4 linked regions of the Homo sapiens genome follow. The protein of the gene in region 2 interacts with the protein of the main gene of each other region in a pairwise test. Each region holds a gene or a part of one and is shown on either strand. Other genes may lie near its edges. The genes, in order: HMG20A, SMYD1, KRT35 and ZBTB44.

What was found.
Region 1: the proteins of SMYD1 (region 2) and HMG20A interact in binary tests that used the Homo sapiens proteins (3 or more experiments, as listed by UniProt).
Region 3: the proteins of SMYD1 (region 2) and KRT35 interact in binary tests that used the Homo sapiens proteins (3 or more experiments, as listed by UniProt).
Region 4: the proteins of SMYD1 (region 2) and ZBTB44 interact in binary tests that used the Homo sapiens proteins (3 or more experiments, as listed by UniProt).

The regions. Positions count from the first base shown.
Region 1 is NC_000015.10:77,423,877-77,430,910, forward strand, and holds part of HMG20A (high mobility group protein 20A), read left to right. Parts: intron 1-7,034. UniProt on the Homo sapiens protein: Plays a role in neuronal differentiation as chromatin-associated protein. Acts as inhibitor of HMG20B. Overcomes the repressive effects of the neuronal silencer REST and induces the activation of neuronal-specific genes.
Region 2 is NC_000002.12:88,063,262-88,070,824, reverse strand, and holds the start of SMYD1 (histone-lysine N-methyltransferase SMYD1), read right to left. Parts: upstream 3,001-7,563; 5' UTR 2,961-3,000; coding exon 2,824-2,960; intron 1-2,823. UniProt on the Homo sapiens protein: Methylates histone H3 at 'Lys-4' (H3K4me), seems able to perform both mono-, di-, and trimethylation. Acts as a transcriptional repressor. Essential for cardiomyocyte differentiation and cardiac morphogenesis.
Region 3 is NC_000017.11:41,478,146-41,485,495, forward strand, and holds the start of KRT35 (keratin, type I cuticular Ha5), read right to left. Parts: upstream 3,007-7,350; 5' UTR 2,953-3,006; coding exon 2,482-2,952; intron 1,637-2,481; coding exon 1,554-1,636; intron 1,359-1,553; coding exon 1,202-1,358; intron 851-1,201; coding exon 689-850; intron 342-688; coding exon 216-341; intron 1-215.
Region 4 is NC_000011.10:130,255,891-130,262,924, reverse strand, and holds part of ZBTB44 (zinc finger and BTB domain-containing protein 44), read left to right. Parts: intron 1-995; 5' UTR 996-1,051; coding exon 1,052-2,069; intron 2,070-7,034. UniProt on the Homo sapiens protein: May be involved in transcriptional regulation.

The sequences.
Region 1 (7,034 bases), on a different chromosome or scaffold from region 2:
TACTGCTTTGCTGTCTCTATTTCATAGCCTTCACAGGTATTCAAATGAGAATACCCTTTACGTGACTTTTCATTATTTAAGCAAAAGTTTAGAGTGTCTACTATATGCCAGTCACTGTTCTCAGGACTTTGAATACAGTAAATACGGCCAAATATTCATATTCTACTGTAGTTTACTCTCTAATTTACAAATTAAAACTAGAATTTTGCTCCCTTGGTATTCCTAAATAAGATCTATGTTATGATCGTTGTTCAGACTGGGTAAAGAAGCAGCCCTAAACTTGATCTCTCCTGGTCTTAATCTCTAAGCCATTCTAAACCCAGATTTGAATGTTTCAGCCTAATTTTTCTCCAGACCATAGAAGCCCCTGTGTTAAATATGCAGTCCCTTTCATTGATACATGTATCATTTTCCTACCATTCTAGCTTCTTTTGTATTGTGAAAACAAATGAGAGTGAACAGTGGGGAAAATATGGGATCAGATAGGCCCAAATTCAGCACTGGTCTCTGCATTTTACTGGCTGAGCTTACTAGCTTGGTAACCATGAGCAATTTATTTGACCTCCCTAAGCCTCAGTTTTCCTAAATCCAAATGGGGTTGTTTGGTGGAATCAGAATGTTGTATGTAAATCTCCTGGTCCAATGCCTGGTGCCAGAAGCTTCATTAATGCAATTATCTTACCCCCAATCTTGCTTCTGCTACTCTGGCTATTGTGATTTGCCCACATGTCTGTTTTAAGCTTTACATTTTCCCCACAGTATGGGATGCAGTGGTAGACTGACTGAGCTTCAGCCTTGTCCCCCTATCAGCATGCTCACACAGTTGTCAAGATTTAATTTTTTTTCCTTGTGGGAAGGAGAAATCACTAATTTCCATGATTAGAAGATATACAAAATAGAAAAGTTTCAAGAAAAGGAATCTTAATCTTGGCACAAATCACTAAGGTAATTTGAATTGTTACAGGCAGACTTTCAACTCATTCTCCTAAACTTATTTAAATACGAAAACCAAAAATGACCTTTCACACTATGATCATACCTCACATTATTCATCTACACATCCAAACGGGATCGCCTCTGGGGGGAAAAAAATCTGTACTGCACCCAGCATTAATATTTTTTTTTGCTCATGCTATTTTCTGCCTGAAACACTCTTTTTTCCTAGGAATCCCCATCTATCAAAATGCCACTTTCTTTGAGGTCGTTTCTCAAGTACCACATTTAAGAAATATTTTCTGATATCCATCCTCTTCTACACTCTCCCAAACTGTACACGTTCTGTCCATTAACTCTCCAGAGCATTATACCTTTCTTACAGCACTTACTGTCCAGTGCTCCTCTTGTTTGTTTTTATTGCGTTGTTGTAGGTAGAGTTTATGCCTTCCCTAAAAGGCTGCAGACTAGGTCTTATTCCACTCTGTGCTGTCATACCTGGCACAAGACCATTCACATCATAGGTATTCAGTAAATATTTGTGGACGTGAGCTGGCTCTTGGAGTATGACAAAACTGATCAATAACTTTTGTCCACAATTATGCCCAGCATCAGCACAATGGCTATCATACATTAGACACTCAAATATCTATAAAATGAAAGAGTGAATAGTAAGTCATCATTCTCTCATTTGGGAGCTTCTTAGGGTGTCAGATAAGCATATATTAAGCACCTCCTATATAACTGGAGCTGTAAGAACTGATCTCTGCTCCTCAATTTAATTGGAAAAAAGTAAATTGTTACTAATATCTGCAGACTTTGAAGATGGTAGGTGTTTGAGTAGGGATGGCATGGAGAGCTTAATATAGAATTGTTTGCATTGTGAGAGATACCCTCTGCTACCTGAACTCAGAAACCAAATAGATTTTTATATCAAATATTTGGACACTTAACTTGTATTTCCACTCCTAGGTATATATCCAAGAGAACTTAAAACATGTTCACACAAAAACTTGCACACAAATATTTGTAGCAGCCTTATTTGTAAAAGGCAAACTCAAATGTCCATTAATTATTGGATGACTAAACAAAATGCGATATAGCCATACAATGGAATATTATTCAGCAACAAAGAGAAACAAAGTAGCAATACCTGCTGTAACATGGATAAAACTTGAAAATATTAAAGTGAAAGAAGTCACATACAAAAGGCAACCTATTATGTGATTCCATTTATTTAAGATGTCTAGATTAGGCAAAACTAATAGAGACAGAAAGTACATTAGTGGATGGGAATGGGAGTGACTGCTAGTATGGAGTTTCCTTTGGAAGTGATGAAAATGTGCCAGAATTAGATAGTGGTGGTGGTTGCATAACCTTATATACTAAAATATCTTGTATACTAATATACAGTTGACACCTGAACAATGAGGGGGTTCGGGGTGCTAACCCCTGTGTTGTCAAAAATCCATGTATAACTTCTGACTCCCCAAAAAGTTAACTACGTAAATAGCTTACTGCTGACTGGAAGCCTTACCAATAGCATAAATAGTTGATTAACACATGTTTTATATGTTACATGTACTATGTACTGTATTCTTACAATAAGCTAGAGAAAGAAAATGTTACTAAGAAAATGATAAGGAAGAAAAAATATGTTTACTATTTATTATTCGTTAAGTGGAAGTGGATTATCATAAAGGTATTCATCCTTGTCATCTTCACATTGAGTAGGCTGAGAAGGAGGAAGAGGAAAGGTTGGTCTTACTGTCTCAAGTGGTGGAGGCAGAAGAAAATCAGCATATAAGTAGACTCATGCAGTTCAACCCATGTTGTTCAAGGGTCAACTGTACAAAAAAAATCCTGAAATATACACTAAAGGGGTCAGTTTTATGGTATGTGAATTATATCTAAAAGAGAGAGATACTTAGACTTGAAGAATAGAGAATTTTGAATGGAGCCAGAAGAAAGAAGCAAGAGGTGTGAAAGCAAGGAAATGATCATTCTTTCTCAGATCCTAGAGAGAAATATAAGCAGCTAGGTACAGGGCTAAAGGTATGTTAAGGATCAGGTGAGGATGGATATGAGGATAGCTTCTGGGTTTTTGTCTTAATGTAGCAGGGATTTTGGTAAATACTTAGACTACAGAGGTATTAACAAAGGAGAAAAACATCTTATGACCTTGAAGGAAGCTTCAGATTTCTTCTTGATTAGGTCAAGGATGTGGTATATGGTCTTTTTGGTTTCTGTGTTACGGTCAGCTGAGTTTAAAGAGTGGGAGTATTCTAAGGTAAGGAGTCTAGTAGCAATCAAAACAAAGTTACTGGGGAAGATGGGAGAATAGAGACTAGACAAAGATGTTAGAATTTGATTCTAAAGCTCTCCTCAGGTAATAAAAATAGATAAATCTTAATGAGAAGGAACCAAGGGCAGTGATTTGGAGAAGTCAGTACAAATAAAGGTATTCATTTGAAGAAATATTTGAGTGCCTTTTATGTGCCAGGCACTATTAAATAAAACTATAGCTATTTTCCTTATTTGACTTTTTTTCTGAAGATAAAATCTTATGAGTGTGATTAATGGTTCTACAAGCATGGGTAGTTCTAGATATGATACCTACATTTCCCTAAAAGATTGTACTGATTTTTAATGATAACAGCAATGTATAAGGATGTTGTTTTCACCACGATTTTACCAGCAAAAATATTTGGCTAGTTGAACACACATAAAATTATTGTTCTCTTTGCTTATAATCTGATAAGTGTTTCCATACCTTGGAACCTGGATCTGTTGGAACATGAAGGAATTCAGGACCCTTATACATGTTACCCCATATGGCTTCTTTAAAGGATATGGATTTTTGAGGATCCTAGAAATCAAAATTCTCTAATTTTATTCAGCTCAAAAAAAAATTTTATTCAGTGCTGCTGTCCTTATTTTCTGAATAATATTCAGATTCAGACCACACTGAGCCATAATTCCAATTCCCACTTGACTAACATTTATGTAGTATTGTGCTAGGCACTACATGTTATCTTAATTCTAATAATTTGGCATTTTTCCATATGAGAAAAATAAGATTTAGAAAGATTAGATTACTTGCCCAAAATCACTTAACCAGTAAGTGGTAGAGACAGGATTTGAATGCAGATCCTCTAAGGCCAGTGTTTATTCTCATACTGCATGATCCCTCAGTATCACTACTAAAATTTACTGGAGGATAATGGAAAGTGGAAAATCTGAACTGGAACTTGGGACAATCAAGCACTGACTTACCTGTGTTCATAATGAAGCATTTAGCAGAGATGTTGTTTGTTGTTTTGTTTTGTTTTTACTGGGGAGGCTATAGTACATAAACAGAGCGAAAGATCTTGGTATGGTTAAACCCACATTTTCAAGGCCTTCTGTGTTCTCCCTGATGATCAGGTACCTACTACCCCAAAATCTGTGATGGTAACAAAGAAGGAGGAAGGCAGCTGTAGAAAAGCAACGGCCTTTGGGTATACCCAGTAAGATTTATGTGATTGTAGAAAGAGCAGGCAAATGGCTTGGCCTTCAGAGAATCCCACAAAGTAAAGTAACCTTTTAAAATAGTAACTTAAAGTCTGACATAAGATTCTTAACAGGATATTCATCACAAGATAAGATATTCAAAGCATAGCGTGTAAGACATTCAAAGCATATCAGCAAAAAAGGAGAGATTCCTTCATTTTTATTGAAGTATGGTATACTCACAAAACAAATTTAATATCAGGAATATAAAACAAGAGATACGATGTTCCAATTCTGGCTTTAGTCGGATATTATAAAATTTAATCCCAATTTATAGATAAGGCAATTCAAGGCTCGAGATTACACACCAAATAAGTGGACTCTAGGCTGGGTGTGGTGGCTTCTGTAATCCCAACACTTTGGGAAGCCAAGGCAGAAGGATCGCCTTAGCTCAGGAGTTTGGGACCGGCTTGGGTAACATAGTGAGATGCTGTCTCTACAAAAAAATAAAAAATAGCCAGACATGGTGGTATATACACATGTGGTCATAGCTACTCAGGAGGCTGAGGCCAGAGGATCGCATAAGCCCAGGAGTTCAAGGCTGTGAGCTGTTATCGAGCCACTGCACTCCAACCTGGGCTACAGAGCAAGACTCTGTCTCAAAAAAAAAAAAAAAGGAGGGGGGAGCCTCTAGAACATAGGCCTTTAATCTGTGTGGTTGTTTTGCAATTTATATGTATAATTTTTAAATAATATGTTGGCCGGGCACAGTGGTTTGTATCTATAATCTCAACACTTTGGGAGGCTGAGACAGGAGGATTGCTTGAGGCCAGGAGTTTGAGACTAACACAGGCAACATAGCAAGACCCCATCTCTACTAAACAAAATAATAATAATTTAATATGGTGGGTTTTTTTGTTTTTTTTGTTTTTTTGAGACGGAGTCTTGCTCTGTCTCCCAGGCTGGAGTGCAGTGGCGCTAGTGAGCTCATGCAATTCTCCTGCCTCAGCCTCCCAAGTAGCTGGGATTACTAGCGCTTGCCTGCTTCAAAAGAAATGATTTCCAGCACCCCATTTTTTCTTTTCCAGCCTCAAAATTCATATCTCCTTTTTTTCCCCCATGTCCACATGTCCTTCATTCCTATACTTCATAGCTTTAATTCCTGTTCTCTTGATACAAACCTTCATGTTTGTTGCTTGATGGCATCATAATTATCATAACTTTTTGGCTTAATAACAGTAGCAGTTATATCAACAAATAATAAAATGTTCATACTTTTGAGCCAATAATTCCACATATAGAACTTCATTCTGAGAAAATACTTTAAATAAGAAAAATAGTTAAAGGCACAAAATGTTAATAGCACTGATATCTATACTGTCTAAAACTTGAAACCTTCTAAATATTCAACAATATAATAATGCCTAAGCAAATTATTGCCTATCTACTCAGTGGGCTGTAAGACATTCATTTTTCACAATAGCGTCTTTAAGAATACATTGAAAGATGTTGTAAGAATGTTTTTGCAAAAATGAAAAGGAGAAACATCAGAAGAAAAAGTAGAAAAACTAATGTGATTGGTGTCTATTTCTGAAGCATTTATATTTTCTATATAATAATAATTTACATTTACTGACCACTTACTTGTGTCAGGAACAATACTCAAGCAACATTATAGAAGCAACAATTTGTAGTTATTGAAAACTGGTGTTCTAGAATCAAATCTGAGCTTCATCACTTACTAATATGTGGTCTTGAAAAGGAAATGGAGGATAACTATGTCTACATTAAATTATTAAATCTATATAAAGTATTTGGCACATACAAAACCTACAATAAGAATGTTTTTGTTATCAGACATTTTATAAATATGTCTCATTTAATCTTCACATCCTCACAGTAACCTCATTAGATAGTGTTAACGTTCATTTTACATGAAAGAAAATTGAAACTTCAAATGTTTAAATACTCTAGGTTAAATAACTTGCCGAATCACTTAACTAATAAGCAGTAGAGTTTTTATTCAGAGCCCAAGCTATGGTTTCCACTTATGACTCTGAGAGATGAGGTTGCTGCAGACTAATGCTTTTGCTAAGAACAGGAAAGATGAGAATTAAAAAGAAAAGTGAAGGCATCAGAGACCTGCTGAGGCATCCAGGACTTAAGAAACCACAACCATAGAACCAAAGGAGCTTCAGAGAAGTGGGCTGATGTTCCATGCTTCTCTTTTTTCCTAGGAATTTGCTAATTCTTAGAGCATGACAAGATGCTGTGAAACTTAGCAGAGGGTTTCTTCTAAAAGCAGAGAAGCTGTTAGTTTTATGGGGCGGAGCAGACAAAACTTGGATTTTAGAGATCTCCAGGTAGCTAGTTCTTGGGTCAAGATCCCTAGAGAAGGACAGTACCCAGAAACTTTTTTAAAACTTGTTTTCCCCTCACAGTGTTTGCTAGGCAGAGTCTAGAACTGTAAGAAAGTTAATTTGTATTGCTTTAAGCCAATAGCTTTGGATAACTTGTGACAGCAACAATATGAAACTATTACAGAGACATGAGGAAATGATGAAGAAGTCTAACATACATATGACTGGAGGAGAGAAAGTTAGAAGCAG
Region 2 (7,563 bases):
ATTACAAGCACCTGCCATCATGCCTGGCTAATTTTCGTATTTTTGTAGAGACAGAGTTTCACCATGTTGGCCAGGCTAGTCCTGAACTCCTGACTTCAGGTGATCCGCCCGCCTGGTTCTCCCAAAGTGCTGGGAATACAGACATGAGCCACCACACCCGGCCAAAACTATTATTTAAAAGGCAGTAGAATATACAACACAAAACCTAGGATAATTACCTTTGGAGCAGGCATGCAACAGGATAGAGAAGATGTAACATATTGGAATATTCTAGTTAAGTTGGTTTGGTGTTGATTTATTGCTATGCTTTATATAATATATGTTAGAATATATACAATATAACATATAATATATATGTTAGAATATATAATACACACTGTTTGAAAGAATTAATTTTCATTTAATGCAGTGCTCAACTAAAAATAAAATCTTTCTCCACATTTGTGTGGAAGAGTAGGAAAGCCTGTCTTGCAGTAAGATGGATTAAAACAAGCCAGTTTTGTACAGTGACTTTTGTGGGTGACTCAGTCCCACCTCTGCAATCAAGTTTCTCATCTATGGTGGCTGAGCCTCACCAGGAGCCTAAAATGCATAAAACTTTCCTTTAATGCCTCTTTGGGCTGTCTCTGGTATAACCAAAGAAAGCACAGCTCCCTCATCTATGCAGTGACAAGTTTGGGTAAAGCATTTTTTGAAAAAAAAACTATCTCTTTTAGATTTTTTTTCAATCATTTTAAACGTCATTTATACCAATTATCCCACTTTTATTACCATTGTAAAAATAATATATGATTTTATGTAGCATTTATCTGCAATGTATATGAAGGTGTTTTTATAGTTGTTACTTCAAATGAATGACAAATTATTTATAATAACAAAAACATGGAAACAATCCAAATGGCCAGTCATCAGCAGGTAATAGAAGAAGACGTAGCCCTTAAGTACTATGTCTCTGAAGAGTGTATAATAGCACAGAAGATGTCAAAATTATTAAATGAAAAAGCATAATAGCTTGTATAATGAGTATATTACAGCCAAATGAAACCTATGTTTTAAAACAAACCGAAAATAGATACCCAACATGTTAAGAGTGGTTATCGCTGTGTGATGTCTTATCTTTCTAAATTTTCTAAAATGACAATGCCTTGCTTTTATAATGGAATGAAAGCCCATTCAACTTTAACCTTCTTGAAATGGAACTGATTGGCTAGATTGACTTTGGGGAATTGGAAGCAGCAAATGGAGATGTTCTTCACAAGGCCAGGCAGTAACTCACTGGCAGCGCCAGAATTAGTGTTGACAGTCCCTGTGTTTCTGGGTTGTTTTCACTCTGAATCCAGCTGGCTCCCTAACTGTACTCACCCCTCCCCTGACACATACACATACACACACACAGATTAATGAAATAAGACAAGCTCCCCCTGAAAAAGTCACCTCAGCCCCTTATTTTCCTCAAGTGGTGGTGAGCCATATGCCCCAGTTCACACCCTTTTCCCTGAAGGTCTTAGTGGGCAGGAAGACAAGAGAATGTGAATACTAATCAAGTTATCTGTGGGAAGCAGTGCCCTTTCCCAGGGTGGTCAGTGCAGCCAGCCAACCACAAAGCCTAGGTTATCAGACTCAAACCACATAGATGTCAAGCAGGTCACCCCAACCTTGATCTCAGAAAATATTGACAATTTAATGTAATCACCATGTAGGTTTGTTTAAAATGAAGATTTATTACTAATTTAAAAGCTTGGTAGTCTAGTGTGGCCAAGGTCGTGAGGAAGCGGGAATGTAAATTTAATAGAGCCTGTTTGGAGAGCCTATAAAACTGAAAACATCACATCCTACGGCCCAGCAATTCCTCTTCTAGTCCTGTGCCCTGGAGAACAATCGAACATATGTACAGGTAGACACGATCAAGGATTTTCATTTTATTTCATGAAAAATTAAAAACTACCAATTGTCTCTCAATAGGGGAATGGATAAATAAAATGTCATATATTTATAGGATGAAATATTTAAAATTAAGATTGATGATTCATATGGCATATGAATCTATATGGATAGCTCTATAAAGGAAATAGATCTTTGGAATTTAAAAGAAGTATCTATAGATTTAAAGTTCCTGCAAGGATAGACATCAAAAACGTGTTGTTTAGGGAAAAGAGTGAGTTCTAAAATGACATCTGAAGTATGACACCATTTCTGTAAAAAAAAAAAAAAAACCAGACAGACTACAGCCATCCATCTTGTTAAGTGCAGATATATGTATGTAATAGCACAGGAACATTCTAGAAGGAAATACATTGAAATAATAGCAGGGGTAATATCTGAGGAAAGACAGAGGGGACTGGGATTGGGTGATACTCAGATTTTTCAAGGGAAAGTGGATTCCTGGGTTATTCATAATTATAAATATACAAATAGTTCATAATTTTTAAAGTCTCAGCAATTACTTTATCTGGTAATGTATTTATAATAAAAAGAAAGCTAAAAATATAGAGCTTTCTGTCGGAAAATGTTTCCCACAGCACCACACCCACCTTTCCACTCCCAGCACACCCTCTCAGCCAAGTTGGCCAGTATTGGGAGAAAGTGCCCCCGAAGCCTTTGCTCACCTTCACCACCCTTCTAGGAGCCACAGCAAATCACACTGGCAATGATCCCTTGCAGAAAAATTTGTGCCAGAAAAATTAGCTCTCAGAAGTGCCATTTTGTTGAAAAAAGAGCACATGAATTTTATCCCTTCCCCTGATGATTTTTGAGAGCAAAGTATTTTAGAGTTTGGCCCCAGCCAAACTAACAGGAGAGAAGGCAACTCCCCACATTTCATACCTGTCAAAAACCACTGCGGAATAAGCCCGCTCAGCAAAGATGATATCTGCAGCCCAGAACTCCTTGGTGGCCTTCAGACCCCTTCCTTTGCCCTCAGCGGTGAAGACCTCCACGTTCTCCATTCTCCCTATTGTCATCTCAGAGACTGTCAGGCCAGCGCGGCAGTTATTTAACACTGAGCCAAGTCTCTTGTCATTGCTATTTCAGCACCTTCAGCATCCCAAAGAGCAAGACTATAAATGGACAAGCCACCTCCCCTTCCCTACTCGCTCTCAGCTACTGGGCCCTCACCTCCCCCTCTGCTACTTTTCCTGGAGGTGGGGATGGGACAGACAAGAGAACAAGTGAACTGGGAAGAGTTTCATTCATCACCCAGCAAAGCCGACAGAACAGAAAATGACCATGGGTTAATATGGCATAGGGCCTGAAAAGTTTTGAGAGGTTCCATTGCAAGCAGAAGCTATCTGTATGTGCTAAGTTCTGAACTGCAACAATCCTGTTCGGCTTTAGTTGGAGTAGGGAACATTTGGTCAGGAGGGTATTTTTAGCAGCCAGATGCCTCTGTCAATCAAAAGCAGACAGCTGGAATGGTCCCATAGAAACAAGGTGATATTTGCTGCTCTGGGACCCTTCAGCTGTCAGGCTTGCACTTTCTCAAGTGAGATGGGCCCTCGCCCCACCCTTTTCAGTCTCTCTCCCAAGGGTGGACTGTTTAGCAGCAGAAGCTAAACTGAGGGCTGGGCACGGTGGCTCACGCCTGTAATCCCCACCTTGGGAGGCCGAGGCACATGGATCATCTGAGGTCAGGAGTTCAAGACCAGCCTGACCAACATGGTGAAACCCCGTCTCTACCAAAAATACAAAAATTAGCTGGGCGTGGTGGCGGGCGCCTGTAATCCCAGCTACTGAGGAGGCTGAGGCAGGAGAATTGCTTGAACCTGGGAGGCAGAGGTTGCAGTGAGCCGAGATCGCGCCATTGCACTCCAGCCTGGGCGACAGAGTGGGACCCCGTCTCAACAAAAAATTAATAAATAAATAAATAAATAAATAAATAAATAATAAGAAGAAGCTAAACTGAGCCCTTGGCATATACGTAACAGTACTATTTAGGCTCCAAGGGGGCATTTTTCCTCTCCAGTATCACCTGGGGCTCTTACAGCACCCCCTACTCCACAGCATGGAATTCCCTGTTCTTAGCACTGCTGGTGATGCTGGTATGCTGGAGGCAGGCTGGATACAGACAAGGCAGGCTATAAAAATAGCAACCCCCATCTCTATCTTTCTATCAAATTTCCTTTAACATGTGTCTGCTGCCAGGAAAATACCAACGTGCTCTGTCCTTCTTCTTACTCAGGAGTGAGGACACTGGAAAGACGAATCTAAAATCCCCGTTGAACTAAATGCCACTGTTCTTGGCTATCAGGCAGCTTTTACTGAGGTTTAAAAGAAATACACTTGCAGATCTGGAGCTCTGGCTTGACTTCCATGTAAGATTTTTAGTTCCTGGGATGCATCTATTTCCTGGTGGGGGTTGGGGGTGGGGGTGACGGCGGGGGTGGGGGGCAGTGGGCAGGGGCATTTCCTGGATTTTTCTGAGTGTATGGTTTCTGAGTCAGATGAATCTGAGTTTGAATTCTAAGCCTGCTACTACCACTTGAGATGGAACCTGTGAAACAAGGGTGATAATTTCTACCTCACTGGATTGTGAGAGTTAGATAATATGTAAAAGGGGATAACACAGCACTTAGCACTTCATAAAGTACTCATTAAGTGATAGCTATTCTATTTTATTTACTCTGTCACATTATCCTCCCTAAACTATCACGATGTACCAGAAATTTTAACATGTCTTCAACCAATTGAATCTCCCAAAACACCTTCGACTCTTGGAAGCATGTTGAAAGTTCATTGTCTGATCATATATCCTGATTTTTAGGTAAGAATACATAGCCATGACAGCAAGAGAATATCTCTGCAGCTTCTGATGTACACTGAAGAGCAAAATAACTTAAGACATGTAAAGTTAGGTGCCTCAAAAAGTAAACACTGCATGCTCCCAAGGGGAAAAACAATTCTACAAAACAGAGAGTTAAAAAAAGAGAAAGAGGCCGGGCACAGTGGCTCACGCCTGTAATCCCAGCACTTTGGGAGGCGAGGCAGGTGGATCACAAGGTCAGGAGATCGAGACCATCCTGGCTAACACGGTGAAACTCCGTCTCTACTAAAAATACAAAAAATTAGCTGGGCGTGGTGGCCGGCGCCTGTGGTCCCAGCTACTGGGAGGCTGAGGCAGGAGAATGGCGTAAACCGGGGAGGCAGAGCTTGCAGTGAGCCAAGATCACGCCACTGCACTCCAGCCTGGGCAACAGAGCAAGACTCCGTCTCAAAAAAAAAAAAAAAAAAAAAAAGAGAAAGAAGGCCAGGCGCAGTGGCTCATGCCTGTAATCCCAGCACTTTGGGAGGCCGAGGCGGGTGAATCACTTGAGCCCAGGGGTTTGAGACTAGCCTGGGCAACATGGTGAAACCCTGTCTCTACCAAAAATACAAAAAATAAACCAGGCATGGTGGCGCATGCCTGTAGTCTCATCTACTCAGGAGGCTGAGGTGGGAGGACCACTTGAGCTCATGAGGCAGAGGTTGCAGGGAGCCATGATCATGCCACTGCATTCCAGCCTGGGTGACAGAGCAAGATCTTGTCTCAGAAAAAAAAGAGGGAAGGGGGGGGGGGGAGGGGAGGGGAGGGGGGGAGGGGAGGGGAGGGGGGAGGGGAGGGGAGGGGGGGAGGGGAGGGGAGGGGAGGGGAGGGGAGGAGTAGCAGAGCAAGCTCTTGTCTCAGGAAAAAAGAGGGAAGGGGAGGGGAAGGGAGGGGAAGGGAGGGAAGGGAAGGGAGGGGAGGGGAGGGAAGGGAAGGAAAGCGAAGTGAAGGGGAGGGGAGGGGTTTTCAGGAAAGGAGAGGAGAGGAGAGGAAATATTAAAAAGGTTTTTTCCCTGTAATCCCAGCACTTTGAGAGGCCAAGGCAGGCAGATCACGAGGCCAGGAGATTGAAACCATCCTGCCTAACATGGTGAAACCGCGTCTCTACTAAAAATACAAAAATTAGCTGGGCGTAGTGGCACACGCCTGTAGTCCCAGCTACTCAGGAGGCTGAGGCAGGAGAATCACTTGAACCCAGGAGGCGGAGGTTGCAGTGAGCCGAGATCATGCCACTGCACTCTAGCCTGGGTGACAGAGCGATACTCCATCTCAAAAAAAAAAAAAAAAAAAGGTTTTTTTCAATCCAGGTTGACTCCCAATGAATACCCTGTATCCACATTGCCTGGCAACTCAGGGTCTTGCAATAACTTGTCTGCCCTCAGGGGCCAGGGGCTCAGCCTGGCTCAGATGAGCTTGTTCCCTAGACTAGGCACTCTTGGAGCAGGTTCAGCCCAAGCCACGGACAAGGAAGAAATTTACCAGCCCCAAGACCATATGGAGAGAGGAAGCCCAGGACTTTAATTATACCTGTGGGCCTCAACCTTATCAGAACAATGGTTATTATATTATTAAAGGGTGGTAGACAGAATAACAGGCCCCAAAGATGTGCAGATTCTAATGCTTAGATCTGTGAATATGTTACCTTATATGGCAAAAGGGACTTTGTGAATGTGATCAAGTTAAGGATCTTGAGATGAGAAGATTATCCTAGATTATCCTGGTAGGACCAATGTAATCATGAGGATCCTTATAGGAGGAAGGCAGGAGGGCCAGGGTCAGAGGAGATGCGACAATGCAACCAAGAGGGTCAGAGTCAGAGAGATATTGAAGGGGCTGTGTTGCTGACTTTAAAGATGGAAGAAGCGGCCATGAGCCAAGAAACTGGAAAAGGCCAGGGAACAGATTCTTACCCTAGAACCTCCAGAGGGAACACAGCCCTGCGGACCTTGATTTCAGCCATGTAAAGTCCATTTCTGGCTTCTGACCACCAGAACTGTAAGATAATAAATTTATGTTCTTTAAAGTCTCTAAATTTGTCATATTTTGTCACAGCAGCAATAGTAAATATAGTAAATATTTACTATATTAGTCTCATTATAGTAAATATTATGTAACATGCTTTTTGTTACTTTAAAGTGAAATTCTTACATAATATAATTTATTCGTTCTTATACCTAAGAAAAATGACTAGTCTAATCTAACAAAGGTGAAAGAAAATCAAAGTTAATTTGTAGTAATATCTATTTATTGTAAATTAAATGTGTAAATGTGCTCACTATGCATATGCTTGGGTACAACTATATTAGAAGATGAGATAAAATGGCTAGATGTTTGTACCTCTAAGTGGAATCACTATGATAGTGAGAACAAAAATGCAGATTGATTTTGAGGACACAAATACCATATTGTTGCCTGTGACCATAATTTTCTGAAATGGTGAGCGACTCTTAGGGGAGTTCTAAACAAAATAAAGTTTGATCTTTCTTTGGTTAACAAGAAGTTGCATTGCTGGAAAATTCAGCATATATTAAAACTTTACAAAAACTACTTTACGATTACTTACAAAATGGATTTCCAGACTCAGACAATCATAAACTGGCTTTTTGCCTACCTGAAGAGCACATACAGATATTTGAGGCTGTGCGGGGTGGGCAGAGAGTCTTCATTGTACCAGGCTGTCCCCTGCTTCTCAGGGGATCTAGCATCTCTGGCCAGGATTAAGGACACAGAGTTGACAGTAGTTCCCAGACTGTTGGTGGGGAAGG
Region 3 (7,350 bases), on a different chromosome or scaffold from region 2:
GGACATGTCAGTTGCTACAGGTCTCTTGTCCTTTACCACTGGGGGATTTGTGACTGGAGCTGGTCCCTCATTCCCTCTTTTCTGCATAGAGAACCCCTGGTGCTCAAGAACATGGACCCCTGGAGTCCGCCTGTGTGGTCAAAGCATGGAAGCTGGGGAGCTTGTGTGCTCCTCGGCTTGGTCCAGAGGCAGCTCCACCCTGCCTTGGGGCTCACCATGCTGTGCTGAGCCTGCAGCTCAATCTCCAGGGCGTTGACCGTGCGTCTCAGCTCGATGATCTCTGCCTGGCAGGACTGCAACTGCTCTGAGCTGGACACCACCTGCTGGTTCAGCTCCTCACTCTGAAACATACACACACAGAACCTGGTCAGCCACACCAGGGACTTGGCTTCAGAGAGCTACAGAGGCCGGTTAGAATCATGAGCCAAGAAAGACATTCCCGATTCCCCAGTCCCACTCATTTATTTTATACTGGAGGGCATTGTTGCTCAGAGGACAGCAACCTGCCCAAGTGGGTCTGTTTTGACCTTGTCAGCAAGGTCAATTGAAGTGGGTCTGTTTTGACCTTGTCAGCAAGGTCAAAACAGAGATGGGACTCAAAGTTAGATTTCTTGATTCAGAGCCCCAGGGTCACTTCCATGTGAGCCACCACATACCCCTGTTGCACTGACTGTTTCCAGGTACCTACCTGGGTGTCCAACCAGTCTTCAGCATCCCGGCGGTTATTCTCCACCAGGGTTTCATACTGGCACCTCATCTCCTCCAGAACTCGGTTCAGGTCAACAGGTGGGGCAGCGTCCACCTCAACATTGAGGCGGTCACCAAGTTGGCAGCGCAGTGAGTTCACTTCCTATAGCACAGACCAGGATGAGTACTAATTCCCAGAGGGCTGCCTCCAAGGTTCACCTCCTCCTCATGTTCACCTCCTCCCCATGCTCACCCCTCCTAATGCTCACCTCCTCCCCATGCTCATCTGCTCCCCATGCCCACCTCCTCCCCATGCTCACCTCCTCTGCATGCTCACCTGCTCTCTATGCTCACCTGCTCCCCATGCTCACCTCCTCTTCCCTATGCACACCTGCTCCCTCATGTTCACCTCCCCCTATGCTCACCTCATCCCCAATGCTCACCTCCTCCCCATGTTCACCTCCTCCCCCATGCTCACCTGCTGTGCCGTGTTCACCTTTTCCCCCATGCTCACCTCCTCATGGTTCTTCTTCAGGCAGAGCAGCTCCTCCTTCAGGGACTCCACCTGGGCCTCCAGGTCAGACTTGCACAGGGTCAGGTCATCCAGGATCCTGCGCAGGCCGTTGATGTCTGACTCCACCAGCTGCCGCAGGGACACCTCCGTCTCATACCTGCAGGCATAGAACAGGGCACCTGAGTCTGCATTTCCTTTTTGCATCTAAGTCAGGCCTGCCCTCAGACTGTCCAGGTGCTGTGAGTCCTGCTTTTATGCCCCAATGACAGAGTACAGCCAAAACCCTGAGCTCAGGCATCACCTGTGTCCAGTTCTAGCAGCCCCCAACCACATGACAAGCAGGACAACTCACTTGGTCCTGAAGTCATCTGCAGCCAATTTGGCATTGTCAATCTCCACCACCAGCCTGGCATTCTCAGCCTTGCTGCATAGAGTCTGGAGATATGAAGAAGTTATTTCATTGCAAGAAAGGACATTCCACTTGTTGGAGCTCCCTAAAGCTGACAAGGGCTGACTCTGGAAGGAGGAAGTCACCCATCCTAGACCTCTGCTACTCCATGTGCATTGGAGTGTTATGGGCAGGCTCTAGGGATCAACTATGGAAAGTCCAGGGTTTCTTCCAGTGCAGTGTATCTGTGACCTGTTACTCAGGTTAGATAGCTGCATGAAAATGCAACAGGAAAGGCCTGGCATGATGAAATGAGGCTTCTTCCAATCTCCCTGTCTCCCAGGCCTACTGGGGGCCCAGGGCATTTCATTGCCAACAACATACCCCGGGATTCTCTGGTCATAAATGGTCCCTCACAGGAGCCAGCTATAACTTTGGGCCAGGCGAGAAGTGGATATGGGCCCTTGGCAAGAAAGAAACTTCTCTGACAGGCATTTTCTTCCCTGAGTTACTTATGGGAAGCCTGAACTGCACTGCACTAAATACATCAAACCCAATCCCCTGACTTTAAATAAAAGAGGAAATGAAAACTCAGAAGACTCAGAGGATTGGGCAATACCACCAAAGGTCACAGAGTTCATTCATAGACCTGATGTTCAAGCTCTGGCTCCAGTAACTGCCATCTGGGTCGCTTACCCAGCCTGAATCTCAGTGTTCTCAACTGTATAATGGGCTAATGATACCTCCCTCTTAAGGTTATTGGGAGGAGCAAATGAGGCCACAGAGATGAACATGCTTGGTGACTTCCAACATGCCCTATGGGAACAGAACTACCAATGAATGCTGGTGACACAAAGTTCCTGGGAATCCAAAGCCACTCTGAACCTCTTACCTTCTTCTGGAGCTCCTCGATGGTCCGGAAGTAGGACTGGTAGTCAGGGCACATGTAGGGGACCTGCTGCTCACACCACTCACGGATGCGGCTCTCCAGGCTGGCGTTCTCCTGCTCCAGCTGACGCACCTTCTCCAGGTAGCCGGCCAGGCGGTCGTTCAGGGATTGCATGGTCTCCTTCTCATTGCCAGTGAGGATGCCCTCCCCAAACCAGCCCCCACCCCCACTGTAGCTGGTAGCGAAGCCTCCAGCAGGGAGGCAGAGAGCAGGGAGGCAGCTGGTGGCCCTGTAGCTGCTTCTGCCCAGACCCACTGAGCAGGCAGAGAAACTTCTGGCCACAGGGGAGAGACTTGGAAGCTTGCAAGAGCTGCTGGAGTACATTGCGGACACACGAGTGGAGCCCCCACTGGCCCCTCCTGGGCTCTTGAGAGACCCAGAAGAGAAGCCGGCCTTGAGGCATTTGGAAGCCATGGCCCCTGCAACTCAGATGCAATTGATAGGTCTCTGAGGCCAGACACCCCAAAGCAGAGAAGCAGCTCCTTACCCCAGATTTATATCTCTGCCCCAGTGGGCATTGGTTGGCCTTTACAAAGTGTTTTCTCCTCATTAAAGTTAACACCACTTTCTATTAAAACCCCTCATTAACCTGTTATTTAGTTTCCTGTGAAAATTTACCAGTCTCATAAAATAGGAGCCCCATTACTATGTCAAGACTCATCTCCACCACCCCACATCACTGGGAAGACCAAGTCCCTGTCAGTTCTTCAAAGGGACCTGTCATTTGAGCCCAGACCTCAGCCTCCGCATTAAGCAAGCATGGGAGTTCAGCCACTGTCTTGACTTTCTCCAACTTTGACTTCTTTTATTGGCCTGAGGGAGTAGAGGAGGTCTCTGGGGTGCTCCCAGAAGATGGAAGGGTAAACTTGGTTGGTGCAGGAAGGCAGGGGTCTTGCAGCCAGGGAGACACAGAAGGCTCTTGAATTGGCCCAGAAAATATGGCTAAGGTGACCAATTTTCTTGGTTTCCCCAGGAATTTTCTGGCTTTAGTTCCGAAAGTTCCATATGCCAGGGAAACCTCAGTCCTCGGTAAAATGGGACAGCTTATCACCCTAGATACTGCAGAGCCCTGATGGACACTTCCCTACTCTTTCCCTTGCCAGGAAGTCTGTGCAGGTTGTAGAGCCTAAGTTCTAGCCACAATGCCTAGAGATCAGTTAATTGGACACCTGCCCATGATGACATCTAGGAGGGCATGTCTTCCCCAGCCCTGGTTGAGAAATGGAGAAGCCCTTCCTTCTGGCTGCCTGAATTGGAGCTCTTTTCACACAGCCCTATCAATAACCCGGCTGATGGTAGCAACCATCATTCACTGAGCATTTAGTACCCACCAGCCCCCACGCTGATCTGTCTCTATGCATTCTCTTATTCAGTCCTCACACAAACTCATGAGATTGGCATCACCAATAGCCCATTAAATAGAGGAGGCTTGGACTGTTTCAGGAGCCTGTCCCAGATCACAGCTGAAAAAGCATCTGTACAACTGTTCAAGGCATGCTATCTTCTTTAAGGCCTCACACACACCCTCCAACACAGTCGTGGATAGAAAGGTGCTGACTCCTACAGAAGGAGACAATGGTCAGAGTAGAAAATGGCTTACCCAAGGTCCACACAGGCTTCCCAGGGAGGCTAAAGCCCAGGCCTTGCAGCTCCAAACCACAGGCCCACCCCACTGCCTCTAAGGGCCCAGTCCTGGCCAGGCCTTCCCCCGAAGTCTGGCCCCTGCTCCAGCCCTGCTGTGCCCTCCCAGCTCTGAATGCCCAAGGCAGTGACTATTGGTAGATTTCTTGGCCTCCAATTAACTGACGTCTTCTGATTGTCTTGTGTTTCAGCCCTATTTTCCCAGGGAGACTGTAAGCATGGGGGCAAGGATTGACCTTGTACTTTTTTTTTAAATCTCTGTAGTGTTAAGCACAGTGCAGGGCTTCTAGATGTCTATGAATTAATTAATTAATTAAGTGATTTTTCCCACGGTGAATTGTGTTAAGAAAGGAAAGAAAGAATGGGAGGAAACAAAAGAGAGTAGGGAGCGGGGAAAGGAAAACACAGTCAATCTTAACTATTCCTACTTCTTTTTTTTTTTTTTTTGAGATGGAGTCTCACTCTGTTGCCCAGGCTGGAGTGCAGTGGTGCGATCTCAGCTCACTGCAAGCCCCACCTCCAGCGTTCACGCCATTCTCCTGCCTCAGCCTCCTGAGTAGCTGGGACTATAGGTGCCCGCCACCACACCCAGCTAATTTTTCTTTTTTTTTTTTTTTTTGTATTTTTAGTAGAGACGGGGTTTCACCGTGTTAGCCAGGATGGTCTCGATCTCCTGACCTCGTGATCTGCCTGCCTCAGCCTCCCAAAGTGCTGGGATTACAGGCATGAGCCACCACACCCAGCCTACTATTCCTACTTTTGTAAATGAGGAAACTGAGACTCAGAGATGGAAGGGGATCCGGCATCTCTGTGTAGGTGAGCAGCACCTGTCCAGACTAACCAGCCCCTTTGGCCAAGAACAAAGTGTTTTCTGGGCCAAAAGCCATTCTGCCCAAGGGAGATGGATCTCATAAACCAATTTAGTGCTAAAGTTGTGACTAAAAAATTCTTGATAAGATTTTTAGATAACTTTATAAAACATATATGTAATATTTTTCAAGCTGTTTTAAGGTATTTTGTAAATTGGTCTGATCTATTTCTGTTCCTTTTTAGCATGCTTTTCTTAAATGACATGATTATCTAGAACCCCTTATCAGCAAGAACTAACATTGTTTAGCACATTCCTAGTAACTTTCCTTACAGGATCCTTGCACTCTGCTCAGATGTGGTCCAGGCTGTCCCCAGATCATGCCACGGATACACTAAATACGGCCCTAAAATGCCCTTTGCCCTCCTTCCTCCTTTTTCTGCCCATCAAATCCAAATCTGCCCCAAAGCCTTTCCTGGTCACCCCAGCCCTCAGTGATTTCTCCTCTTCCCCAAAACTTGAAACCCTGCCCACACCCGCTCCTGCTATCCCAGTGCAGTTGCTGGGAGCGAGGGGGCGAGGTGTCTCCACAGCTGGACGTGAGCTCCTCGGGAATTGTGCCTGTTATCCACTCTTTGTTCCAGCCGCTTCCGCCACCCCTGCTCCTTCCTAGATAGGCCTGAGCCTTAAGATTGGATTAGCTGTGTATGCCATGTTCCGTTGTTATCTCTTTGTTGATTAATTGATGTGTATATGTGAATGAGAAAGGCAGTCAGATAGCATATCTGGAAAGTACAAAAAGGATCAGAAAAACCATACCGCCTTGAAATAAAACATCATATTCACTCTGCGGAAATGTTATTGAATGTTTTCTATATCTCTCTCCATATCAATGAAATAGGAGCCCAAAGACCTAAGAAGGCTCCTAAGTCAGCCGCCTGCTGTGTGACTTTAGACCAGTCGCCACCTACCCCCACAACACTGTTGAATTCTGGTTTGCTTGTTGGTCAGTGATTTCAATTGCAACTCAGTTAAGGGTGTGTGTGAGGTTGAGATAGGAGGTGTTTCCTAACTGATACATATGCTCTGGACAATGTAATTAAAAGCTAGGCAAGTATGAATAAATAAAGAGCTCACAGCCACACAGGGCTGATTGCGTGCATCAGATGAGGCTATGAGTGTGCCCTGTAAACTGGAGAGTGATCATAAAAAGGGAAAGCACTGTACAACACAAGGTGCTGATGATGTGATTACTTATCAGGTCATGCCCTGTGTGGTTCATCCACAGTGACAAGGCAGCTCAGCTGTTTCCCGGAGACTCGTTCCATTCCTGGACCCCTGCCTGTTTCCGCACAGAGGTACAATGCTCTCTGTGCACGCCTGGTCACACACTGGCCTCAGGCCAGGGTCAGGGGTGCAGACTTAGGCCCTAGAGCATGAGTGGAGCAGTGAGAGGGAAGGGGCAGGGCAGGTGAGAGAACCATGCCAACTGCCCCCCCTGCCCAAAGCTAGGTGCATCCTCTGAGGCTGAGGCCTTTGGGTTCACTCTCCAGCTCCAAGGACACTGCTGGCAGCACAGCCCTCACCATAGCATCCTGCCAGATACAAAGCAAAGCACTTGGCCCATGCAGTGGGGGTTCCTGTTCAACACTCTGAAGCCAGGGACTCTGCATTTGTAGTAAGAGCAACACTGATAGCTACCACTTTTTGGAAGCTACACACACACTGTCTCATCAGAACCTCCTGGCAGCCCCATTTCACAGATGAACCTGCTGAGACCAGAGAGGTCTCATGACATAACCGGGCATATAGCACAGAGTGGCAGAGTCGGGCTCAGTGCAGGATGCTCTGATGCTACCTATGCACGTCTTCTCCTGTTGTCTGATAAGTTTGCTGCACCTCTGGCTTGCTCAGCAAGTGATTGAAGAGTCCCATTTAGCAGCAAGTAGCTGATGACATGAGGCAGAGCCAGGTCATGGATGTCTTGGCCATGACCCAGAGGAGAGCCCAGAGGAGAGTGAGCACAAGAGAGGGGGAGGAGGGAAGAGAGACAGAGACAGAGAGCGAGACAGAGAGAGAGAGAGAGAGAAATTGTACTGAGAAGAGCTCCAGAGCCAGGGTCAGAATAGCCAGGTGATGGCCAGGTCTCTGCCACTCACTGCTCTGTGGCCTGGAACAAGTCACTGCCCTCTCTGGGCCTGTTTTCTCAAGTGAAGACTGGAGCAGGGGCAAAGGAACCAACCGTGAGGCCCTCAGACCTCTCCCAGGCCATGCTTCTCTGATCAGAGGGGTGTCCAGAGCTGGCAGAGTTAGGCCCCACCTGCAGACCTGCCTAACTCAGCCAGTGGAATCCAGGGCTCTGA
Region 4 (7,034 bases), on a different chromosome or scaffold from region 2:
CACACCCGCCTAATTTTTATGTGTTTTTTTGTAGAGACAGGGTTTTGCCATGTTGGCCAGGCTGGTCTTGGACTCCTGAGCTCAAGCAATCCGCCTGCCTTGGCCTCCCAAAGTGCTGGGATTACAGACGTGAGCCACCACACCTGGCAACCTTTTTAAATTCATCTTGAAATCTTTTTTTTTTTCTTTCCACTTCCTTTTTTTCTTTTTCCCATCTTTCTTTTCCTCTATACATTTACCTGCATAAAACATTAACAGGGATGATTATGTAATGGATTGTTCAGTGTTTACACTGGCATTGCCTGCTGCATGCTCACATTTAGAAACAGGAATGATAATACGCCTACTGATAGAGATATGATGACAATCAACTAACTATTAAATGTGAAGCATTTCAAATACTGTCTGGCACATAGAAGACACTCTATAATTGTCATTATTTACAAACTGTTGCAGCCCTGCAGCTCATTAAAACGCTGGTTCACAGGCCGGGCATGGTGGCTCACACCTGTAATCCCAGCACTTTGGGAGGCCTAGGCAGGCCTATCACCTGAGGTCAGGAGTTCAAGACCAGCCTGGCCAACATGGTGAAACCCCATCTCTACAAAAATACAAAACTTAGCCAGGCATGAGGGCGGGTGCCTGTAATCCCAGCTACTCGGGAGGCTGAGGCAGGAGAATTGCTTGAACCCGGGAGGCAGAGGTTGCAGTGAGCCAAGACCACCCCGCTGCACTCCAGCCTGGGCAACAGAGCAAGACTCTGTCTCAAAAACAAAACAAAACAAAAAAAAACATTGGTTCACAGACTTCACTGATTGGACAGTTTGGAAGGCAGATAAGGAGAATATATTTCTATACAGTCCCTACCTTGAAGTTTCTCTGTCACTACCATCTTTCAGCTTTTTAATTTAGTACAGTGGCCACATGAAAATGATCTAAATCACATTTTAAACCACTAAAATATCAATTAATGCTTTATTTTATGTATTTTTTAGGACATTTCTGATTTATTTGCATCCTTGAAGAGCATCTGTAGAAGAGGAAGTAAAAGATGGGTGTGAAAACATTTACTCATAGCTCCTCTTCCCACAGCCAGGAAATGCTTGGAAAGCTAAATATGCTGCGAAATGATGGACATTTTTGTGATATCACTATTCGTGTCCAGGACAAAATCTTCCGGGCACATAAGGTGGTACTAGCAGCTTGCAGTGATTTCTTTCGCACCAAACTTGTAGGCCAAGCCGAGGATGAGAACAAGAATGTGTTGGATCTGCATCATGTTACAGTGACTGGCTTTATACCTCTTTTAGAATATGCTTACACAGCCACTCTATCAATTAACACAGAAAATATTATTGATGTTCTAGCAGCAGCCAGCTATATGCAAATGTTCAGTGTTGCCAGCACCTGCTCAGAGTTCATGAAATCAAGCATTTTATGGAATACACCCAACAGCCAACCTGAAAAGGGTCTAGATGCTGGACAAGAAAATAATTCTAACTGCAATTTTACTTCTCGAGATGGGAGCATTTCTCCCGTGTCCTCAGAGTGCAGTGTGGTAGAAAGAACCATTCCTGTCTGCCGAGAATCCCGGAGAAAGCGCAAAAGCTACATTGTTATGTCTCCTGAAAGTCCTGTAAAGTGTGGCACACAAACAAGCTCACCCCAGGTATTGAATTCTTCAGCTTCCTACTCAGAAAATAGAAACCAACCAGTTGACTCTTCCTTAGCTTTTCCTTGGACTTTTCCTTTTGGAATTGATCGAAGGATTCAGCCTGAGAAAGTTAAGCAAGCAGAAAATACCCGGACTTTAGAATTACCTGGCCCATCTGAGACCGGTAGAAGAATGGCTGATTATGTGACTTGTGAGAGCACAAAAACTACCTTGCCTTTAGGTACCGAAGAAGATGTCCGGGTCAAAGTAGAAAGATTAAGTGATGAGGAGGTCCATGAGGAAGTGTCCCAGCCTGTCAGTGCATCTCAGAGTTCGCTGAGTGATCAGCAGACAGTTCCAGGAAGTGAACAAGTCCAAGAGGACCTTCTGATTAGTCCACAGTCTTCCTCTATAGGTATAATGCCTTCTGTGTTTTTCTTGGTGCTATAAAGTCAATTCAAACATTTTTAAGTTCCTGTTAGATAAAAAGTTTTGTGCTCGGTCATATAGGAAATATAAAGAAGAGTAAAACATGGTAACTGGATTTGCTTGAGATGCTATTAGCACTATCGTTTATTTTTTACAAGTTGCACATTGGGGAAGATAAAAATAATTGAATGGTATCTGCTGGGACAAAGGCAGATACACATACACAAAAAAGCAGTTAAATCCAGTTTGTGTTTTATTCTTCATTAAAATATGTATTGAAAACTTACCATGTGCCAAGCAAACATTTATGATACATAAAGAAAAACACATAGTCCCTGCAATGACAATTAGGTTAATCATCTAATTGGGGAAGCAGATATGAAAGTAAATGATTACAGTGAACTATCAAAAGTGCTCATCTGGAGGTGTGAACAAAGTAGTATGGTTGCAACAAAGGAAAGAGCAAGTTACACTATATGTTTGAGTGGGTCTTATGCAATAAGTAAGAGTTTACCCAAGTGTGGGAATGTCATTTCTGTGAAAACATAAAAACACAGAACATATATGCAAACACAGAGGTATGGAAGAGCATTGTGTGTTTGGTAAACAGTGAATTCAGTGCAAAATGATGTAAGTAAGTACAGATGCCTGAAACTGTAGGGAATAGTGGGAGATCAGACAAAAGGAGTGGTTGAGCGCAGGCTGTAAAGAGCCTCGAATCCTAGTTTCAGTAGGGGTTGCATTTAAGTGCAGGTGATGGAATCCCTTCTGCAGTAACTTAACTGTAGCAGAGTTTTATTTATTTTTTCTTTATTATTTATTTATTTATCTTTTTAGATTGAAAATAAAATGATTTATAGTTGTTTTCTCTGGCAGTATTTTTTTCTTTTTTTTAATTCAAATTCTGGGGTACATGTGCAGAACGTTCAGTTTTGTTACATAGGTATACACATGCCATGGTGGTTTGCTGCACCCATCAACCCTTCATCTGCGTTACGTATTTATCCTAATGCTATCTCTCCCCTAGCCCCCCATCCCCCAACAGGCCCCACTGTGTGATGTCCCCCTCCCTGTGTACATGGGTTCTCATTGTTTAACTCCCACTTATTAGTAAGAACATGTGGTGTTTGGTTTTCTGTTCTTGTGATAGTTTGCGGAGAATGATGGTTTCCAGCTTCATCCATGTCCCTGCAAAGGACATGAACTCATTCTTTTTTATGGCTGCATAGTATTTCATGGTGTACATGTGCCACATTTTCTTTATCCAATCTATTATTGACAGGGATTTGGGTTGGTTCCAAGTCTTTGCTATTGTGAATAGTGCCGCAGTAAACATATGTGCGCATGTGTCTTTATAGTAGAAAGATTTATAATCCTTTGGGTGTATACCCAGTAATGGGATGGCTGGGTCGAATGGTATTTCTGTTTCTAGATTCATGAGGAATCGCCACACTGTCTTCCACAATGGTTGAACTAGTTTACAGTCCCACCAACAGTGTAAAAGCATTTCCTATTTCTCCACATCCTCAACAGCATCTGTTGTTTCCAGACTTTTTAATGATCACCATTCTAACTGGTGTGAGATGGTATCTCATTAAATTTCCATATGAAATTTAAAGGAGTTTTTTCCAATTCCGTGAAGAAAGTCAATGGTAACTTGATGGGGATAGCACTGAATCTATAAATTACTTTGGGCAATATGGCCATTTTCACGATATTGATTCTTCCTATCCATGAGCATGGAATGTCTTCCCATTTATTTGTGTCCTCTCTTATTTTCTTGAGCAGTGGTTTGTAGTTCTTGAAGAGGTCTTTCACATCCCTTGTAAGTTATATTCCTAGGTATTTTATTCTCTTTGTAGTAATTGTGAATGGGAGTTCACTCGTGATTTGGCTCTCTGTTACTGGTGCACAGGAATGCTTGTGATTTTTTATCACAAAGTGTTCAGGAATAAAAGTCCAGGGCTGGTACAGTGAATCTGCAATATAATCAGTGGCCTAGGCAACTTGTATATTTATAAACTGCCATCTTTACTTTGTTGGTTTCATCCATAAGATGCTCATTTCATCTTCAGCTTTGTATTCTAGAAAGGGGCAATGCTTTGTATCAAGAAAGCACCTATGTTCTCAGAAATCCCTAAAAAACTTCTGCTAGTCTGTGTCACATAGTCTTTCCTAGCTGCAAGGGAATCTGGGAAGATAATGTATATTAGTTGGGTACCTAAATGCCTTGAACAAAATTAGAGCAAAATGGATATTGAGTATGCAACTAGCAGTGTCTGCCACAAGTAGGCCAAGTAAGCTTGGATTTTATCTTAGTGGTAGGTAGTAAGGAGTCTACATTAAAGGGATAAAAACAAAAACATGCAGATATTTTAGGAAAACTGTTATTGACATGCAGTGAGTTTGGTTTTACAGAGACAGTCTCAGAGACCAATTGCAGTGCACTTATCTTGGTGTGAATGAAGACTTAAAACCATGTGAAAGAAAATAGATATTACAAGACTTTGTAAAGAAAGACTTAGTACCTGATGATACTGAATATGTATATTGAAAGAACAGGAGAGGTTAAAGTACTCTGATGACTAGGAAATAATGGTAACACTTTATTATATTCCATTGATTCTAAGTCACAATTTTTCATATTTTGTTATTTCTGAATCCAGATATGTCTTACAGTTGGCAGTCTTCTACAGTTGCTTTTTTCTTCCTTAGTGCTATAGAGAATAATGGCAATCATATGAATCAATAGCATTTTAGCATCTATTAAATGTAGTTAGTGCCGTATGAAAATCAGTGGAAGGTGGTGGGAATCCAGTTTTGAGAGTAAATTATCAAGGTCACTTCTGTGTAAATTGTGCTTGGATGATGATCAAGCAGTGTCATTTCAAAAGCAGTAGAAAAGATAAGTGAGATTCCCAACTTGGGACTTTTCTACTAGTAGTGGCAAATTCAATCTCAATAGGAAAAACAGAAGAGCCAAAACCAAGGGGATACCTTGGGGAATACCTATATTCAGGTTTGGGAAGGGATAGAAGAAAAGCCACTAGTGAATAATAAAGATTTGTCCAAAATATTGGAGAACCGGGAAGACCATATTAACTTTGTTAGTTTCTTGTGCTTTTACCCTCTGTGTGAGTTTCCCTGGGCTGCTGCAACAAAGTACCGCAAACTGAATGGTTTAAAAAAAATTTATTCTCTCATAGTCAGAGGCCAGAAATCTGAACGACAGGTGTTAGTTCCCTTTGAAGGATCTTTCTCTCTTTGAAGATTGTAGGGAAGAATCCTTCCTTGTCTCTTCCAGCCTGTGGCAGCTGCCCACAATCCTTGGTGTTCTTTGGCTTGTAGCTCCAGTATATGATATTGTGCTTTAGTATATGCGTTCGTCTTCACATGACCTTCCCTGTCTCTCTGTTTTGCCACTGGCTTCAAATCTCTCTCTCCCTAAAAGGACACCAGTCATTGGATTCAGGTCCCACCCTAATCCAGCATGACCTCATCTTAACTTGATTACATCTGCTAAGACCCTATTTCCAAATAAGGTCACATACATTGGTAGCAAGGATTAAGATGTACTTTTTCTTTTTTTTTTTTTTTTTTTTTAAGATCTGGGATGCATGTGCTGAACATGCAAGTTGTGTTTTTGGGTATTTTATTTTCTTTGTAGCAATTATGAATGGAAGTTCACTCATGATTTGGCTCTCTGCTTGTCTATTACTGGTGTATAGGAACGCTTGTGATTTTTGCACATTGATTTTGTATCCCGAGACTTTGCTGAAGTTGTTTATCAGCTTGAGTTTTGGGGCAGAGACAGTGGGGTTTTCTAAATATACAATTATGTCATCTGCAAACAGAGACAATTTGACCTTCTCTCTTCTTATTTGAATACCCTTGACTTCCTCTCTTCCTATTTGAATACTCTTTCTTTCTCTTGCCTGATTGCTCTGGCCAGAACTTCCAGTACTGTGTTGAATAGGGGTGGTGAGAGAGAGCATCCTTGTCTTGTGCCGGTTTTCAAAGGGAATGCTTTCTGCTTTTACTCATTCGGTATGATACTGTCTATGGATTTGTCATAAATAGCTCTTAATATTTTGAGATATGTTCCATCAATACCTAGTTTATTCAGAGTTTTTAGCATGAAGGGGTGTTGAATTTTTATTTTTAATTTTTATTTATTTATTTATTTTTGAGACGGAGTCTCACTCTGTCACCAGGCTGGAGTGCAGTGGTGTGATCTCAGCTCATTCAAGCAATTCTTCTGCCTCAGCCTCCTGAGTAGCTGGGACTACAGACGCATGCCACCACACCCAGCTAATTTTTGTATTTTTAGTAGAGATGGGATTTCACCATGTTGGCCAGGATGGTCTCGATCTCTTGACCTCGTGATCCGCCTGCCTCGGCGTCCCAAAATGCTGGGATTACAGGCGTGAGCCACCACGCCCAGCCAGGGTGTTGAATTTTATTGAAGGCCTTTTCTGCGTCTATTGAGATAATCGTGGTTTTTGTCATTGGTTCTGTTTTACGTGATGGATTACGTTTATTGATCTGCGTGTGTTGAACCAGCCTTGCGTTCCAGGGATGAAGCCAACTCGATCCTGGTGGATAAGCTTTTTGATATTCTGCTGGATTCAGTTTGTCAGTATTTTATTGAGGACTTTCACATCAATGTTCATCAGGTATATTGGCCTGGTATTTTCTTTTTTTGTGTTGTGCCTCTGCCAGGTTTTGGAATCAGGATGTTGCTGACCTCATAAAATGAGTTAGGGAGGAGTCCCTCTTTTTCTGTTGTTAGGAATGGTACCAGCTTCTCTTCGTACCTTTGGTAGAATTCAGCTGTGAATCTGTCTGGTGAATCTGTCTGGTGCTGGGCTTTTTTTGGTTGGTAGGCTATTTCAGGAGAGTTTATAGCATGAAGGGGTGTTTTTTTTTTTTTTTTTTTTTTTGAGGTTTT